2 linked regions of the Homo sapiens genome follow. The protein of the gene in region 1 interacts with the protein of each later gene in a biochemical or structural test. Each region holds a gene or a part of one and is shown on either strand. Other genes may lie near its edges.

Evidence for each region.
Region 2: the proteins of CCND2 (region 1) and RNF6 form a complex in vitro, tested with the Homo sapiens proteins (one study listed by BioGRID).

What each region holds. Positions count from the first base shown.
Region 1 is NC_000012.12:4,283,479-4,287,392, forward strand, and holds part of CCND2 (G1/S-specific cyclin-D2), read left to right. Parts: intron 1-3,914. UniProt on the Homo sapiens protein: Regulatory component of the cyclin D2-CDK4 (DC) complex that phosphorylates and inhibits members of the retinoblastoma (RB) protein family including RB1 and regulates the cell-cycle during G(1)/S transition.
Region 2 is NC_000013.11:26,220,137-26,224,050, reverse strand, and holds the start of RNF6 (E3 ubiquitin-protein ligase RNF6), read left to right. Parts: upstream 1-1,736; 5' UTR 1,737-2,048; exon of another isoform or gene 2,049-2,537; intron 2,538-2,720; 5' UTR 2,721-2,803; intron 2,804-3,914. UniProt on the Homo sapiens protein: E3 ubiquitin-protein ligase mediating 'Lys-48'-linked polyubiquitination of LIMK1 and its subsequent targeting to the proteasome for degradation. Negatively regulates axonal outgrowth through regulation of the LIMK1 turnover.

The sequences.
Region 1 (3,914 bases):
ATCCCAGGCCCAACACTCACAGTGAGTGACATCAGCCAGATCACTTCATCTCCCAAGACTTCATTGATTCACCTGTAAAAGGAGATGTTTGAAACAGATGAATTTCAAGCTCCTTTTTATTAATACCTCACCATCATCACCGCCGTCATAAGCAAGCATGCAGCCCACAGCAGAGCTGCCCCTGGCGCCTGTGGGTCCAGCTGGGATTCCCCTAAGGTGTGTCCTTTGCCTCCACCATTTTGCCAGGAGGGAGGCGGGAATGTCGGGTGTTCCTGGTTATCTGGGCATCGTTCCTTGGCTCGGGTGAACTGCATCTCAATGAATTGTGGAATGTGCTGGGTTAGAGTTGCCAACTTCTCTCTTCCATTCGCTGAGTGTTCATGGGGTTCTTTTCATTCCCCTGTGGGGCTGCACTTTCTCCCAGTTCTGCAAAGCAGCAGGAGGCTTTGGGGACTCGATGATGTCATTTCTGGGACACATACACAACTGGATAGTGACAGATTCTCCAGGAAGCACAGAGCCCTCATTCTTCCTGGCCTGCTTGGCCTGCTCCCTGCATCTGCCTGCAATCCAGGGATGCTGGGCGCCTTTCTCCTCATCCCTCCAGACGCTGGAGAGCATCTCCAGTCGGAACTCCCCACCACAGTCCTGCAGGAAGTACTAGGAGTGAGAGCAGAGGAGGGGCAGGTTGGGGAGGATGCTGGCTGACATTCATTGCTTACCTTGAACCAGGCACTGTGCTTTTACAAGGATTATTTTAAGTGAATCCTCAGAACAGCACTACAACGTGGGTATTGCTGTTGTCATTATTTGCAGATCAGAAAATGAAAACTCAGAGAGGTCAGGTAACTTGCTCATCTTCACACACTTGGTAGGTGGTGGGATGGAGATTCCACCTCCTTCTGATTCCAGAGCTAATACTCTGAACCAGTGAGCTGTGTTCTCCAGAGGTCTGCTTTGGTTGGAGGGGAGCTGGAGCCCTAGGCCCTGGGACGGCCTCTGTTGCCCATGGCAAGGCGTGTGGCTGCTCCTGCTCTCTTCAGATCTCCAGATGCAGCAACCTGGAGAAAGGCCCTCCTGGGTCTGGTGGGGACTGGGGCAGGAGTGGAGGCTGCCCAAGCTCCGTGCACTCCACGTTCCAGCTTGGAGCTTTTTGAGTCTACTCTCCAAATCCTTCCCATCTCCCTGAAGAGTCTTCTGAGAAGTGTCTCAAATGCTCCTCTTCACTCAAGAGCCTCCTTTCTTTTTTTTTTTCTTTTCTTTTTCTTTTTTTTTTTTGAGACAGTCTTGCTCTGTCACCCAGGCTGGAGTGCATGGCACAATCTCTGCTCACTGCAACCTCCAACTCCCGGGTTCAAGTGATTCTCTTGCCCAAGCCTCCAGAATAGCTGGGATTACAGGCGCGTGCCACCATGCCTGGCTAATTTTTGTATTTTTAGTACAGACAGGGTTTCACCGTGTTGGCCAGACTGGTCTCGAACTTCGGACCTCAGGTCATCTGCCCACCTCGGCCTCCCAAAGTGCTAGGATTACACTGTGAGCCACTGCGCCCAGCCTTCAAGAGCCCCCTTTCTTTGAGAAGTTTCTTCAGAAGTTATCCATATAGTAGTACAGACCTAGCCATTATAGCACACCATCCTCTACTATCTAATGCATTGATGCCCAGCCTTAAGAAGTCTGAATATTGTACGTTTTGGGGGGAGTCCTCCATGCTGCCTGGAACAGGGAGGAGCACATTGTCATGAGTCGATCAGAATGGATCGCTGATCGGTTCATTGCCTCTCTCTCTGCTGCAGGAGGAAGGATCTCAGGAAGTCACCAGCATCTCACCTCTCCAGGTGGGCAATTAACGATGGCGAGGGCACACCCTCACCCCTGAGCGTGCCTTCTGCACCAGCATATTGCTTGTTGGCATTTTTGATCAAGAGACTTAACAGACTGCTGAGAAATTTGTACCTGGTTTTTATTTGTTAAAATAATATTACGTACAAATTTTACAAACTCATCTGTGTTTCTCCCACCTAACAGAACAGCTTTTATTTTCCGTGCATCCTTCCAGTTCATCCATAGGCATATATGTATGTATTTACCCATGGTTGTAATCTTCATCGTCGCATGCATGCATGCAATTTGGTTTTCCGCTTCCTTCTTCTGAGTGGATATTGTGACCATTTCTCCATCCTGTCATAGCGACAAAGCTGATGGTTTCCAGGAATGGCTGCATTGGGTAGGTGGAGCTTTCCACAGTTGAGGGTGGGGGTTGGCTAATTACAGCTAGGAAGCTAGTGCACAGATGAAATGATGTTTGATTTTTTTGTTTTTCTCTCTGTTCAGTATCCCCTACCAGTAGAGAGGGGGATGTCCTTGAGAGTGGTCCTGGGGCAGCCCTGGTGCCACGGGGAAGTAGCGCCGCTCTGTGGAGAGGGCTGCTTTGTGAATTTGCCGGCTGGTAGACACCGTGATCCATTCTATTGTCTCCTCATTGTTCTTCTCCTTGGGAGTCATTCCCATTCCAGATCCTCAAGTAAGAGCAAAGTAGACCTGTAAGGCACCTGGGAGGTTATCCTGCTTACTATCTTTAAACTCTTGACCTAAGCCATGTAGGAAGAAACACATTTTATAACACAACTCAGGATACTTGTACAAGTATATCAAACTGATACAAAAGTTTCTCCGAACAATATTTACTCTTAACGACATACGGTGAGCCTGATACTTTCTATCCTACTCTATTTGGTTAAAGGAGAACAACAACAGAAAGTGCTGGTCACGACCCACAAATGCATTTCATGACCCATTAATGAGTTGCAGCTAGAAGTTAGAAAAACACTTATCTCACCCAACCCGTTATTAGACAAATGGGAAACCAAGCCCTTGGAAAGAGGAAGTGACTTGCCCACAGTCCCACGTCTGGACCTAGCTGGAGGGCTGATGTTGCCTCAGTATTTGACTAACCTGGAGGAGAGGTGGGGCATGCTCAGGGATCCCGAGGAAGATGCTCGTCTTCTGTGTAGCGGGCAACAGAGGGCAGCACGGCCGCCGTCCTCGTCTCCAGCGGCGTCTCTCCTCTGGCTGTGGGAACACACTGCTCCTTTGGTGCCACTCTGAGCTGCTGAGAGGCAGTCAAGTTCATGCACATAGTGCTCCCCAATTCTGTGGGATTGGACAGTGTCCCCAAGAGGACTCCCCTGAAAATCTTCTTAGTAAAACAAAAAGGGAGGTAGAGTCTCCCTGTGCAACCGGTGCACCTGTTCCCCCTATGCCTGCTGGCTTCCAGAAGTTCATTCGTATGCCAATAATAAGAGTTGGTTTTGCTAGCAGTGGGACAGCAGAGATGGGCATGTGTGAGGTGTGCTTCCCGGTCTGAGGCCTATGGCAGAGGGAAGGGAGGGCCGGGGATACTTGCCTGCCTCTTCCCTGGCAGATGCTCCCACCCGGGCCTTTGTGGGCCCAGGGCCATGGGCCGGCTGCCCCGCTTGTGTTATGAATGTCACAGGGGGGAGCTAACGAGGTTATTGGGCAGAGAAACACTCTCCTGTGACCCATGTGGAAGAGACCTACAGCAGAGCAAGAGGCAGGGAGGCTGGCTTTGTCACACTGTTCATGGCGACAGAGAAGGCGTAGGAGGGGCGGGTGGACAGCAGGCGTGGGCGCAGCACCATTATATACGTCCCTCAAGAGGTGGAGATGGTGAGAGGGCAATGGAGAAAAAGCCAAGGAGACAGGCAGATGGCCAGGTTTGCTCTGCGTTCATGATGGGAGGGGAGGGCTGTGCTTGGCTCAGGGATCCACGGTGTCTAACAATGCTGCTAACTTGATGCTGGGGCAATGGGCTGACCATTAAAAGAGCTGCTGTAGAAAGTGTGTTTGTAATAGAGTGTGTACAGGAGGAAGGGGAAATAGGAGAGGGGCTG
Region 2 (3,914 bases), on another chromosome or scaffold:
ACTCTCCAAAATTCACAGATATTAAAAATGATTTCTACTTGTTATTTTCTATGATGTGTGTTCACAATATCTGAAGTCGTTGTACTGTGTGCATTAATCCCGTTTGCCAAAAGATTGCATTTTTCTCTGCTCATCTATGCAGTAGGCTGAGGAGAATGTTCTGCCAAGTGCTGTGCTAAGTTCTGGGATTACAAAAATGAATTAGACCATTTGATCACACTTAAGCAGTTCAGACTCTAGGTAGTAAAGACCTAAAAACAGAAAATCATCTTAAGTATTTGCTCAATGGCTCTTTTTCCATGGGAAAAGAGGGCAAGGACTTCATTCTATGAGGACATGACTGTCTGATTCACGGCTGTCATCACCAGCACCTAATACATAGTCACACTCACTATTTGTTAAATACATGAATACATGCTAAAATAGGGTTTTATATATAGAGGGAGTATGGGAGCCCCCAAAAGGGACATTTGCTTAGTTTTATGTGTAAATATCGGGCTGGAGGGTGAGGTAAGGGTGTTATTTCAGAGGTATCAGGAAAAATTCCTTAAAGATGAGAACTGAGCTGAGTTTTGGGAGACAGAGGAAATTAGGTAAAAGTGGAGTTGGGGGTTGCTTAGGAGTTCCCATATCTTGTGGCGGAACTTCAAGCAGTTTCGGAGTGCCAAGACAACAGCCTGTAAATGTAAGCAGAAGAAAGATCTGGAAGGGCTTTCTAGGCTGTTTTATATATTTCCATTTTAGTATCCATATCCATATGCTTATTTTAAACACTTGTCCATAGATCCTTACTACACTGGTAGCTCATTGATGCTAAGGACTGCATGTAGCTTGTTATCCAGGTGCCCAGCATAATAATGGGGATATGGTAGTTCCTCAAAAGTTAATGCAGAAATGAAAGAACAAACGGAAGAATAACAAGTAACGGCATTGTGAGCACTCTCCAGTGATGAAGTCATCAGATGGTAGGGATGTCAGGAAAGGGGACTATACCAGGTTAGACAGAGACCTACTCAGCATCTTAACTAACGGTGAGGTAAGTTTAGTAAGCCTCACATCTCAGAAATAAAATCAGAGGGAGGAATGTTGGGAGTTTCAAACTGCTTTCCTAGCGGGAAGGTGAAAAAACACAAAATATAGTGGGGTGCGGTGCCTCATGCCTGTAATCCCATTTTGCTGAGGTGAGAGGATTGCTTGAGGCCGAGTACGAAACCAGCCTGGGCAACATAGCGAGACCCCCGTCTCTACAAAAGAAAAAATGTGAAATTAATGGCAAGCGCCTGTAGTTCCAGCTACTGGGATGAGGAGGGAGGATCGCTGGAGGCTGCAGTGAGCTACGATCGCTCTAGCCTGGGCGACAGGATGAGACCTTGTCTCAAATAGAGATAGACAGACAGACAGACTTCAGAATTTATTAGGGTTTGTAATTTCCAGGTTCCAAAGCACAGCAAGGGAAAGGGCCTGGCTGGGTAGTACGTTACACCCGGAAGTAAAGAGACGCATACACCGTTGGGTGCACTTTATAGTCTGGCTGGCAAACGAGCGACACCGACGCGCAGAGTTAAGTGCTGGGACTTCCCAAGCCTGGAAAGCAGACCGTGTCTCTGCAACTACGCGGCTGCCACGAGCGCTGAGCGGCCGGGCATTTGGCCTCGAGGAGGAGGCACTGTAAGGGCGGCGCAAGAGGGCGGAACGCGGGACGCCAGGCACCCTAGCTCCCGACGGACGCAGTTTTCAGTTGCACGGGCGAGCTCCGGGCCGGCTGCGGAGCGACTCCCCGCCGCCAAGTGGGCGGCGTGGCTGTCGGGAAAGAAGGGCTGGGGCCTGCCGTTCTTCCTCCCGAGTATCCCCTCCAGCTGGACGACCCCACGCTGCAGCACGGGCTTCCGGCTTCTCTCCTCAGTGGCCAATTCGAGGGCACAGCGGGCTCCGGAGGCGCGGCGGCAAGCCTATCCCGCCTCCCAACCACAGCCTCCAGCACCCGAGAGAACGGCCGCCCACAGCACACGTTCTCCGGACAGGAGGGCGAAGGCCCAAGACCTGGAGAGGTGGGCTCGAGGGAAAGATCTGGGTCCCACCACTACTTCCTGGAGACGCCGGGGAAAGCAGGCCATCCTTCGAGCCACCCATCTCTTCTCCGATTGGTTAACTGCCTTCTTATTGCGCTCCGCTGGCTGGTGATTGGTTGGGATGCACCGTCTATCACCTGCTTCCTTGTGAGAATCTAGGTCTCTAAGGGAAGCGTTACTTGAGGCTCGGTTGGGAAGAGGTTGGTTGGGCCTCTTGAGCCCACTTTATTTATCGTAGTGGGGATCGTCCCCCGGCGCGAGCTTCCGTCGCAACGGCCGGGAAAGAAACCAGTAGCGGGACGGAGGGCGGGGGTGGCAAGAAAGTCAAGGTTTAGAAGTAAGCCGGAGACGCCTAACCCTGGTAACATCCGAATGGGAACGGGATAGGAAGGAAGGCCTTTGAGAGAGGAGGCGTAAACCCAGGAACAGTGACAGTGTAGGACGAAAGGCCTAAGTTTGTTGCGGAAGGTAGGGGCCTTGCGGGAGGTTTTCGTGACCTAATTGTATGGGGATCTAATTTTCTAGATGTGTCTAACAAAATCCACTGGAGAATTTGCTTTGGCTTTGCAGCAGAGTGGGGAGACTACCACCCGTTCCTGGCCTTTAAAGAAACAGTTTATTGAATTATTCAACTCTCTTTTATTGCTTCAGATGGGCAGCTCTCAAAAAAGGCACAAACAATTGAAGGATGGATACCATGGCATATGTTAAAAGCGTGTTGAAAGGAAAATAAGGTATTCGCTTTGTTTTCATTGTGATTAACTGTATAAGAAAATTACCTTTAAGGAGAAGCTCAAGTTTTAAATAATATTAGGGTAACTTGATTTTATGATAGGCTTCAACTTGTAAAATTATTTATTACAAAAATCCTATTATTGCTGTACCTACGAAATATGCTCTTTGCTAATTATGGTCTTAATCTGAAGATAGAGATCTTGAGTTTTTAGTAGTGTTAATTCATATTTGAGTGGATAATGTTACTAGGTCATTTGTTCAAAATGACATAATAAAATAACCACAGTGAAAAAAATCCTTGAATTTGTAATTTAGTGTTACAGGTGAAATTGAATAGTTGCTTACTCCAACAGTATTTTAGACTTGTAGGCTAATTTCACCTTATATTTAAAGCAGCTTGCTTATTAAATACCTAGTGTATTTCGAGAGGCAGAGTTGCACAGTTGCTTCACTGGTAGCCTAGCCATTTGAGCCTCCAGCCTCTACTGAGTCAGGTGCTGTATTACTCATACCCTTTAGTGACATGCCAGAAATTGTCGAGGAATAGTTTATTTCATCTGCAGAACACCCAAATTAGCTCTTAACAGCAGACCTGGTCCTACCCTGGAAAACTCTAATCAAGGATTGGGGATGAGATTTGGGCATCTAGATTTTTAAAAATACCCTTAAGTGAGTTTGAGAACCATTGCTTTAGTGTGACTTACTGAATAGATGTATTTAAGAAATTCTAAAATATTTGTGAAACAAACATCTTTCTCTCTTGATTTCCATGTAATTTAAAAGTGAGCTTCTCAGGAGTGACACTTAAATATAATCCAAAAATAGTGGTTTCTTAGGCAAAGTCAGGAAGTTTCACTGGCATTCTGAAACTCCTGGGACTAACCATTCCAGGCTTAAGGATGAGGCTTGATATGGGGTGATACAAAGTGCTCTGATGCACTTTCACAATCCTTGAGCCATACATGATGTCTTGTTTCCTGTTGGGTTTCAAAGTCTTCCTGGTAAGCTTTAATAAGAGACCACCTTCCAGTTTGTTCAGTAGATATTAATTAGGCTAAATGATTTTCACCTCATCAAAGTGCAGTGGGGGATAATATTACATTCATGAGC